2 separate regions of the Homo sapiens genome follow, and region 1 is reported to be linked to region 2. The links are microRNA targets in miRTarBase. Many come from high-throughput screens and were not tested one by one. Region 2 holds a microRNA gene; the other region holds the end of a gene's coding sequence.

What was found. The annotated mature microRNA hsa-miR-6883-5p reads AGGGAGGGUGUGGUAUGGAUGU and lies in region 2 at 1,446-1,467, shown strand. An mRNA with a match to its seed (bases 2 to 7 or 8) in the 3' UTR can be bound and repressed. Matches are read on the target gene's strand: a 7mer-m8 pairs with bases 2 to 8, a 7mer-A1 pairs with bases 2 to 7 and ends in A, and an 8mer does both.
Region 1: the mRNA of SHISA2 is a reported target of hsa-miR-6883-5p. Seed matches in the 3' UTR shown: 7mer-A1 at 3,654-3,660 and 7mer-A1 at 3,522-3,528.

What each region holds. Positions count from the first base shown.
Region 1 is chr13:26,042,319-26,047,389 of GRCh38, forward strand. It overlaps SHISA2 (shisa family member 2), which reads right to left. Exons shown (of 2, transcript NM_001007538.2): 2 at 2,279-4,748. The coding sequence ends at 4,195. Among named protein-coding and RNA genes, the nearest start is that of SHISA2, 7.2 kb to the right of the region's middle.
Region 2 is chr17:8,141,440-8,146,511 of GRCh38, reverse strand. MIR6883 (microRNA 6883) reads left to right here and starts at 1,441; the gene lies at 1,441-1,518. PER1 (period circadian regulator 1) reads left to right here. Exons shown (of 23, transcript NM_002616.3): 16 at 10-140; 17 at 375-554; 18 at 1,519-1,761; 19 at 2,636-3,246; 20 at 3,677-3,863; 21 at 4,054-4,243; 22 at 4,557-4,707.

The sequences.
Region 1 (5,071 bases), not on the chromosome of region 2:
GACTGTGGTGAGCTATGATGGTACCACTGCACTCTAGCCTGGGTGACACAATGAGACCCTGTCTCAAACAAAACAAAACAAAACAAAAATCAGCATTTATAACAAAACAAGGAGAAAATATGGGTTACAGAGCTCTTGAAATAAAACTGCAATCTTAAAAGAATGAGCTCAAGGTCAATTTAATAGATGAAATATTTCATTAGTCAAGCTTATGAGAATGTAATCAGAAATGGAAGGCTACATGAAAGTGCGTGTTGCAGAGGAAATACGCGAAACCAAAACACACTTTTCTTAATGGTATTTTTGCCACTTTGGATGTTGATCTTATTGCTAAATCTTAACTTCTCCAGTGGCAGCAGAAATGACAGATGCGTAGTTTTCACGCTCTTCATAGACACAATGAGCTAATTTTTTCTTCTTTGCAGTCAGAGTCTGCTTCTCTGTCCTATAAGCAGGAAATGGAATCCCCTAGAACTATCATAAACCGACACTAGAGGTTTAGATACAGCAGAAAATGTACAGCAGCAAACTATTTTTCTATCTGCAAATGACAGAATTTGGAATATTTCTACAAGGTGCAAATTACCCTTTATAGGTTCTGATTTATATTTCATGATAAGGAAGGTGTCCTTAAAACAGGTAGTTGAACATTTTTGCTTTGTCAGCTAAATTTTTCCAGCTCTTACCAAAACTGAAAAGATCTGAGGTTGCTTCTAATAATGTTATACTTTTGGAAAACCAAGTAGCAGTCACTAAATGAAAAATTCATTCATTAAGGTGTATTTTTTTTGCTTTAATCATGGTATTTAATTACCACATAGAAGAACTATACAATCTCATGCTAAGAAAAGCAAGCATTTTCCATCCCTGTTTAAAAAAGAGTGCCAAAAATGTCCACAGAGGTGACTCCTGCATAGGGGAAAGGAGGATTAGATGAGGGACTGACAAACTATAGCCTGCCAGGGAAATCCTGCTCACTGCCTGCTTTTGTACAGCACTGGAGCTTACAATTACATTTTGAAATGTTTTCGGGAAAAAAACTGAAGATTATTTTGTGACATGTCAAAATCATGCGAAATTTGAATTTCAGTGCATATAAAGAAGGTTTTGGCCAGGCGTGGTGGCTCATGCCTATAATCCCAGCACTTTGGGAGGCGGAGGGGGCGATTCACGAGGTCAGGAGATGGAGACCATCCTAGCTAACGCGGTGAAACCCCGTCTCTACTAAAAATACAAAAAATTAGCCGGGCGTGGTGGCGGGTGCCTGTGGTCCCAGCTACTCAGGAGGCTGAGTGAGGCAGGAGAATGAGGAGAATGGCGTGAACCCGGGAGGCGGAGCTTGCAGTGAGCCGAGATCGCACCACTGCACTCCAGCCTGGACGACAGAGTGAGACTCCATCTCAAAAAAAAAAAAAAAAAAAAAAAAAAGGTCTTATGAGCATACAGACTTGCTCATTTGTTTATGTGTATCTATGTATGGCTGCTTTTGTGCTGCTACTGCAGAGGTGAATGGCTGCTAGATACCATATGGCTGGCAAAACCTAAAATATTTACTCTCAGGATCTTTTTTTCTTATTTTTTTGGAGACAGGTTTTCACTCTGTCACCCAGGCTGGAATGTAGTAGTGAAATCATAGCTCACTGCTGCCTCCAACTCCTGAGCTTGCAAGTGAACCTCATGCCTCAACCTCCCAAATCACTGATACTACCAAGTACGCCACCACGCCCAGCTAATTTTTATTTATTTTTTCTTTTTTTGTAGAGATGGGGTCTCGCTATGTTGCCCAGGCTTGACTGGAACTCCTGGTCTCCAGCGATCTTCCCGCCTTGGCCTCCCAAATTGCTGCCATCACAGGGGTGAGCCACTGAGCCCAGCCAGACTCTGGATTTTTACTGAAAAAAAAAGCTTGCCAATCTTTAGGCTGGGTGACATCTGAGATCCCTTTAAATTCCAAAGTTCTAGGAATTCCACTTCCAGAGGTAAGCAGGAATCCACCATCAAAGACAATACAGGGAACACCCATTAGCCTCATAATATAATGATTCCAAAAGAACTGTTTCTTTTGTGTTGTCAACATGTCAACCTGTAAAATAATACTCACTGACTCAGAACATTCACGTAAGTTTCCCAGATATTACTTTGAAAAATAGGCTCTTGGTTCTAGAAAGCAACATTCATAATTTTTAGAAATTTTATTCTATTAACAGGGTTGACTAGACCATCTGAAAAATTACCAAGTACAATGAAAATGAAAAAAGAAACCCAACTCCGCTAGGAATTCACATCATAAAATATTTATTAATAAGTAAAATGATTTTCCCCTGCCTTTGGTTATTAAAAAATGAGTATCATTGATGATACCAATTGCCAACACTGGTTTTACATTATTCAGTCATGAAACAGAATAGAAAGATGATCGATAGATATCTATAGACATAAATGTGTAGAAGACCATACCATACAGCGATTTGTTTAATTACAAAATACTGGTTGTGCTAGCAGTTGGAAATGTACTTGCACATCCTTAAAGTTATCTTTTTTTATATAAGTAAAGAACACACAAATAAATTCACTTGAATTTGATAATTTGGAACATTGGCAATGAATACAGTGCCTGTTGAGGCCTGAAAGAGAGAGGAAATCAAGAACAGTGTGGGAGAAGAAAGGCAATCCTTCGTTGAAAAGCTTTTCTCTTAACAATCCTTAGTGCCTGAAAAATAAGCCATTTTGATAACAAGAGTATAAAAAGCCTTATGATCTGCAAAGTAAATCGTATCTGGTTTAAATTTCATCCCAAGTCTCAGGTTATGGCTGAGGAGCTATACTAAGTATCTTTGTAACACATTTCTTTGAATTTTTATAACTAAGACAAGAAAATTTTTTTATCAGATCTAGGCAGAAATACTGATCTTCATTTACAAGTATAGTAATTACTTGCACTCAGGACTATATAGACATGGGGCTCTGAAAACCAAACAGAAGGAAACGCCAAACCATAACCACAAGGCAAAATTAAAAGTAACTCAGAGAAGCAGCGGGTGATAGTTTATGATTTCAATATAAAAAAGAATGCATTACCTCTCAGATGTCACCTTAAAGCCAGAAAATTAAGATACAATCAAGAAGGGGATGAATGGTTTTATGACTATACCACCTACTACTTCAAGATTAAAATCATCCCAGAGTTCTGAAATGTCTTCATTAGTTAAGTAACTATACAATTTATTTCAGTCTCTTTTTAATGTAGAAAATCACTTTGTAATAAGATCTCTACATAAGGTAAAAAAGCACAAAATAGGCCCCCAAAAGCACAAAAATAGACAAAATATATATATCTTTTTACAATGAAATTAAGGTGTGCCTGTGGAATACTGAGACTGATGACTGATCTCACAGAGTTCAAACAGGTTTCCTTTTAGAATAGTCCTGTTATTTGCGTCTTCCCCTTAACCTTGGATGCATTAGAAAAAAAAAAAGGCTCAGGCTGGGGGCGGTGGCTCACGCCTGTAATCCCAGCACTTTGGGAGGCTGAGACAGGCAGATTGCTTGAGGTCAGGAGAGTGAGACCAGCCCAGCCAACATGGTGAAACCCCATCTCTACAAAAAATACAAAAAATTAGCCATGGGGGCAGGCACCTGTAATCCCAGCCACGTGGGAGGCTGAGGCAGGAGTGTTGCCTGAATCCAGGAGGCTGAAGTTGCAGTGAGCCGAGATCGCACCACTGCACTCCAGCCTGGGCAACAGAGCAAGACCCTGTCTGATTAAAAAAAAAAAAAAAAAAAAAAAAAGTCCCAGGTAAAAGGGAGATAACAGGCATTTTGATCCTGTGCAGTCAACAACAAAAAAGAAATAATAATAACAACATAATAAAAATCCTTAATTTATCAGTTTATAAAATTCTTTCGTCAACCATATCTCAAGGGCACTTCGGACTCAAGCATTTGTTATACACCCATCAGCAACATCACAGTCATCTCCAGCTGAGGCCGGTTTTCCATCATAAATCAATGATACCCTGGATGAAACATATCCAGAAATGCTAATTCGGAGATGTTTTCATACAGTCTGGGGGCAAATGAAGCCATCCAAAGGAATCGTGCCATAAATACCACCGACATGTGCGGACTTCCACCTCGAGAATCCACCCCTGCCTTCGTCTCCCTTCAGTAAAGGAACCCACCAGTGACTCTCGGTTATACAGTCACCGCTGGGTACATCTTCTGTTCACTGTTGGTGTGAGGGAAGGGGGACTGAATCTGCCTGTAGCCAGGCTGCAGGCCGTCCATGAAAGGTGGCACAGCTGTCATGGGCACAGAGTCGTGCTGCACCGTGTACCCCACGTATGGGGGATGCAGATACTGCCCTTGATGTGGCACAATCTGGGTGGCCTGCTGACAGTTCAGCACAGAGAAATTCGTGGGCATGTTGACATACACGTTGTTCATGGTCCCTTCCGGCAAGCAACAGTTGGTCTGTGACCTTGTTGGGGGCGCCCGGGCCCCTGAGTTGGCGCTGGAGCTGGAACTGGCAGCTGTGCTGGACTGGCGTGAGGACGACCCCCGGGAGGTGCTGGCACTGGGGATCATGGGGATGGTCTCCATCAAGCGGTTACCCCCTGGGGCTCGGCTCTGCTGGGGATCCTGCTTAGGCCGGAGACATCTGCAGCAACAGGCTGCCACCAGGGACCCCAAGATGATAAAGGCGACAAACACGGAGCCAACAATGAGGAACGGCACGTAGATGGGCACTGAAGCAAAGGACAGAAACACAACATTATGATCTACTCTAGGAACACAGTACCAATCGCCAACTGGCAATGGCAATGAATGAATGAGCAACACTGATACCCACAGCTGAAGGACCTACACTGGGCTAATTTGTTCACATATTAGGAGTCCATAAGATGCACCATTCTTTATCAAGTGCTTAGAAAGGTCCTAAGACCCTACAGGCATGGCAGGTCAGCCCCTAGAAGCAAACTGTTAATATTTAGTTCAACTTGTCAACTGCAAGACTGACTGAGCCAGATATCCGATTTAGCAAAAGTATGGGTTTAACAGGTTAAGACAG
Region 2 (5,072 bases):
CATCCCCAGGTACCTGGAGAGCTGCAACCTCCCCAGCACCACTAAGCGTAAATGTGCCTCCTCCTCCTCCTATACCACCTCCTCAGCCTCTGACGACGACAGGCAGAGGACAGGTCCAGTCTCTGTGGGGACCAAGAAAGGTAAAGATCCAATGCACCCTGCTCCCACTGCCCCGTCCTGGCCTGGTGGCCCTGTGTCTTTTCCCTTCTGCTTCTGGGCCCTCTTGCTCTGCCCTGCTCTCCTCCCCAGCCTCCTGGTCTCCAGACTGTTCCCTCTGTTCCCTACCACCATCCCCTTCCCCTTTTCCCTGGGATCCTCTCTCCTGACTTCCCAGTGGGGGTGGGGATGGTAACTGGCACCATCTCTCTGCACAGATCCGCCGTCAGCAGCGCTGTCTGGGGAGGGGGCCACCCCACGGAAGGAGCCAGTGGTGGGAGGCACCCTGAGCCCGCTCGCCCTGGCCAATAAGGCGGAGAGTGTGGTGTCCGTCACCAGTCAGTGTAGCTTCAGCTCCACCATCGTCCATGTGGGAGACAAGAAGCCCCCGGAGTCGGGTATGGGTGTGGAATTGGGGGGCAGTGCTTGGGCTCCACCGGTCTCCCAGCTAGAGCTCCCTCCTGCCTTTCCCCTCCCCTCTAGGGCCTGATGGAGAGAAGGAGGCCTCCCTTGACCTGGGGCTTGGGGCTACTGCTTCTTGCTCTCCCCTCCCTGCCAGGCTTCTCGGCTTTGCCCTTCCCCTGTTCTGCTTCTCGTATTGTTACTGTCAGTTGAAACACAGAGTCTGGGATAGAGGGTTTGCCCTGAGGTGCTGACCACACAGGGTCTGAAGGCAAGGAAAATTGAACATCCCTGAAGGGTCTTTGGATATTGACCTTGAAAATCATGAGGGGCTGGGCATGGTGGCTCAGGCCTGTAATCCCAGCATTTTGGGAGGCTGAGGTAGGAGGATCACCTGAGATCAGGAGCTCGAGATCAGCCTGGGCAACATGGTGAAACCCTGTATCTACTAAAAATGCAAAAATTAGCCGGGCGTGGTGGCGCGCGCCTGTAGTCCCAGCTACTCGGGAGGCTGGGACAGGAGAATCGCTTGAACCCAGGGGGTGGTGGTTGCAGTGAGCTGAGATCGCACCACTGCACTCCAGCTTGGGAGAAAGAGTGAGACTCCATGTCAAAAAAAAAAAAAAAAAGAAACAAGAAAATGTGTGAGGGAAGGCCAAGGGGTGGGCTTCTCTTCCAATGAGAGTTGTGACGGGGTCATCCCAGTAGAGTTCCTGGCAGGGAGTGGCCACTGGAGGGGCCTGAGTATCGTCTCTTCTTCTGGGCCAGCTTTGCATGGAGAGGAGGACCCAGGGCCAGCCGTTGGCAGAGAGGTGACCAAGAAACGTACATGGAGACCAGGCTTGGCTGTGGGGCAGAGCTGCCAGGGGTTGGCTAGGCTATCAGACAGGGAGGGTGTGGTATGGATGTGTTGACCCCTGAAGTGGTTCTGATGACCTTTCCCTATCTCACTCTCCTCAGACATCATCATGATGGAGGACCTGCCTGGCCTAGCCCCAGGCCCAGCCCCCAGCCCAGCCCCCAGCCCCACAGTAGCCCCTGACCCAGCCCCAGACGCCTACCGTCCAGTGGGGCTGACCAAGGCCGTGCTGTCCCTGCACACACAGAAGGAAGAGCAAGCCTTCCTCAGCCGCTTCCGAGACCTGGGCAGGCTGCGTGGACTCGACAGCTCTTCCACAGCTCCCTCAGCCCTTGGCGAGCGAGGTAGCCACCTGGGGCCTCCTGGAGCCTGCCCTCTGCCCAGTCTAGGACTGGATTGTTGGGGGGTGGGTCTTAAGGGAGGTGTTTCTGCTCCAGGGACCCAGGCTGGTGTTGCTTCCACCACTAGGCCCTGCCTAGGGACAGGCCCCTCGCTAGCTTCTCCCCACTAGGATGGGGTTCCGGGCTGCAGCCAGAGGAGGGCAGCCTGGGGGGATGGCACTGGGATGGGCAGGCAGAGGTGCTGTCTCCAGGTAAGCGACTTCAGGCCTAGCCTGGGGGCAGGGGCAGGAAGTATGCCCACTTAGGAGTCAGTTGTCACTGATGAAGAGACATGCATAGATTCTGGGCCAACTCTGGGTGGGGTCTGGGCTTCAAGGGCAGGTGGAAGGCAGCCCCTCCAGGTGCCTGAGGGAGATCCCCTGCAGGCAGACGCAGGACTCAGGACTGGGCTTTCCAGCCCCACTCTTCACTCCATTGCAAGCTAGGCAGAATACGGCCTCGATGGGCAGGAGGAATGCCTAGGCTGGCAGTGCCCACAGGAGTTTGGCGGACCAGAGCCATCTGTCCATGTGTCCATGGACTCACCCTGCTTCCTCCATCTGCCAGCATGCCTCCATCTTCCGCACACCCCCAGCTCGACCCCTCGTGTAACCTCTCCCTGGCCTTGTTCCTTTCTCAATAAATCCCCTTGTCCCTGGCTCCTGTGATTCTTCCCTGAAGGTGCCCCACCTCCTGAGTCCCCCGTTCTGTGTGGGTTGAGAAGCTCTCTCTGGGACCTTGGCCTGTCCTCTCCCTGGTCAGCGTGTCAGGGCAGTGTGGGTAGCAGGGGTACTAACCCCAGGTTGAGGTCCTTGCTAACCCTAGTCTCTCCCCACAGGCTGCCACCACGGCCCCGCACCCCCAAGCCGCCGACACCACTGCCGATCCAAAGCCAAGCGCTCACGCCACCACCAGAACCCTCGGGCTGAAGCGCCCTGCTATGTCTCACACCCCTCACCCGTGCCACCCTCCACCCCCTGGCCCACCCCACCAGCCACTACCCCCTTCCCAGCGGTTGTCCAGCCCTACCCTCTCCCAGTGTTCTCTCCTCGAGGAGGCCCCCAGCCTCTTCCCCCTGCTCCCACATCTGTGCCCCCAGCTGCTTTCCCCGCCCCTTTGGTGACCCCAATGGTGGCCTTGGTGCTCCCTAACTATCTGTTCCCAACCCCATCCAGCTATCCTTATGGGGCACTCCAGACCCCTGCTGAAGGGCCTCCCACTCCTGCCTCGCACTCCCCTTCTCCATCCTTGCCCGCCCTCGCCCCGAGTCCTCCTCACCGCCCGGACTCTCCACTGTTCAACTCGAGATGCAGCTCTCCACTCCAGCTCAATCTGCTGCAGCTGGAGGAGCTCCCCCGTGCTGAGGGGGCTGCTGTTGCAGGAGGCCCTGGGAGCAGTGCCGGGCCCCCACCTCCCAGTGCGGAGGCTGCTGAGCCAGAGGCCAGACTGGTGAGCACTGACCCCTGCGTCTGCCTGCCAGCCCCCACCCCAGCCCCGCCCCTCTGCCACCCTGTGCTGCCTGCTGTCTCTGCCAGGCTGGCGTCTCAGCCTCCAGGAGGTGGAGGGAGTCCCCAGCTGAATTTCTGAATGAGGCAGAAATTGGCTACCTCCTCTTTGAAGGGACAGTCCTGTCTGTCTGACAGGTGGTGAGGACATCTCAATAACTTCTGAGAGAGCATCTGTCACTTGGAAAGGGTCTGGCCTCACATCCCCACTCTTCGCCAGCTTTCTTCTCTCTCAGCCTGGCCCTACTGTCACGAAGTGGGGAGCAGAGACCACTGGGGTTGGATGTGCCTCTCCCCACAACCAGTAAGAGCAGTTGAAGGGAGGCCTAGGTGCTGACCCCTCCATCCCTCCTTGCCCCCCTCCCCTCCTCCAGGCGGAGGTCACTGAGTCCTCCAATCAGGACGCACTTTCCGGCTCCAGTGACCTGCTCGAACTTCTGCTGCAAGAGGACTCGCGCTCCGGCACAGGCTCCGCAGCCTCGGGCTCCTTGGGCTCTGGCTTGGGCTCTGGGTCTGGTTCAGGCTCCCATGAAGGGGGCAGCACCTCAGCCAGCATCACTCGTGAGTACCCCGCCTCCAGCATCTCCCAGGGTAGGGCAGTGATTGGGGAGCCGGGAGCCCAGGCCCCGTCTTGGCGGAGCTTCCTAAGGCCACTGGGATGGACATGTGGCCTTTGAGGGAGGCCTTGTGAGGTCCCAGGAGTGGGCATGCAGCCGGCCTGACTCCCATTGGTCTGCCCCCCACTTCACAGGCAGCAGCCAGAGCAGCCACACAAGCAAATACTTTGGCAGCATCGACTCTTCCGAGGCTGAGGCTGGGGCTGCTCGGGGCGGGGCTGAGCCTGGGGACCAGGTGATTAAGTACGTGCTCCAGGATCCCATTTGGCTGCTCATGGCCAATGCTGACCAGCGCGTCATGATGACCTACCAGGTGCCCTCCAGGTGAGGCATTTCAGAGGCCTTCTTGGCCTTCCTTTCAGAGGTAGTAGTGGGGGCAGTTTTCTTTTCTGGGGCTGGCTCTGCCCTGGATAGGATAAACGTTTCTATCTTTCTTCCTGCTCCTTGGAGCCCTGTTACTAGTTCCTCCCAGGAGGAGAGCAGGTTTCCTGGTCTTGGAAGCCTTGACCTCGCATAGCACTAGTTTAGGGGAGGAGCATGAGGTGGGAAGCTGTGGTAGAGGAAGGATGCCAGCTTCATGGGTCCTGGTCCGGGTCCTGGATCCCAGCCTCTGCCTTCTGAACCCCTTCTTGGGCAGGGACATGACCTCTGTGCTGAAGCAGGATCGGGAGCGGCTCCGAGCCATGCAGAAGCAGCAGCCTCGGTTTTCTGAGGACCAGCGGCGGGAACTGGGTGCTGTGCACTCCTGGGTCCGGAAGGGCCAACTGCCTCGGGCTCTTGATGTGATGGTGAGAGAAGCCTGGGACGGGGAGAAAAAAGAATTGAGCTCAAGTTCAAGGGGGAGAAAAAAGAATTGAGCTCAAGTTCAAGGGGGAGAAAAAAGAATTGAGCTCAAGTTCAAGGGATCGAGGCCAAGAGCTGATCTCCTTGATGTCCTTGGATCATTAATTCTGAAGAATGTTGATTCCACTAAATTTGCTGTGGATTATAGAATATTAAGCCGCGTGAGTCTTTGCAGAACTTTTCACAGCCTATCCTATGCTAATATGCATTGTGACTGTCCTGTAACGGCATCTGGGTAGAGGGCACAAGGCACTGTCCAACCTTGTTGGACCGCAGGTGCATCTGTGTGGACTGGTGCTTCTTGGGAGTA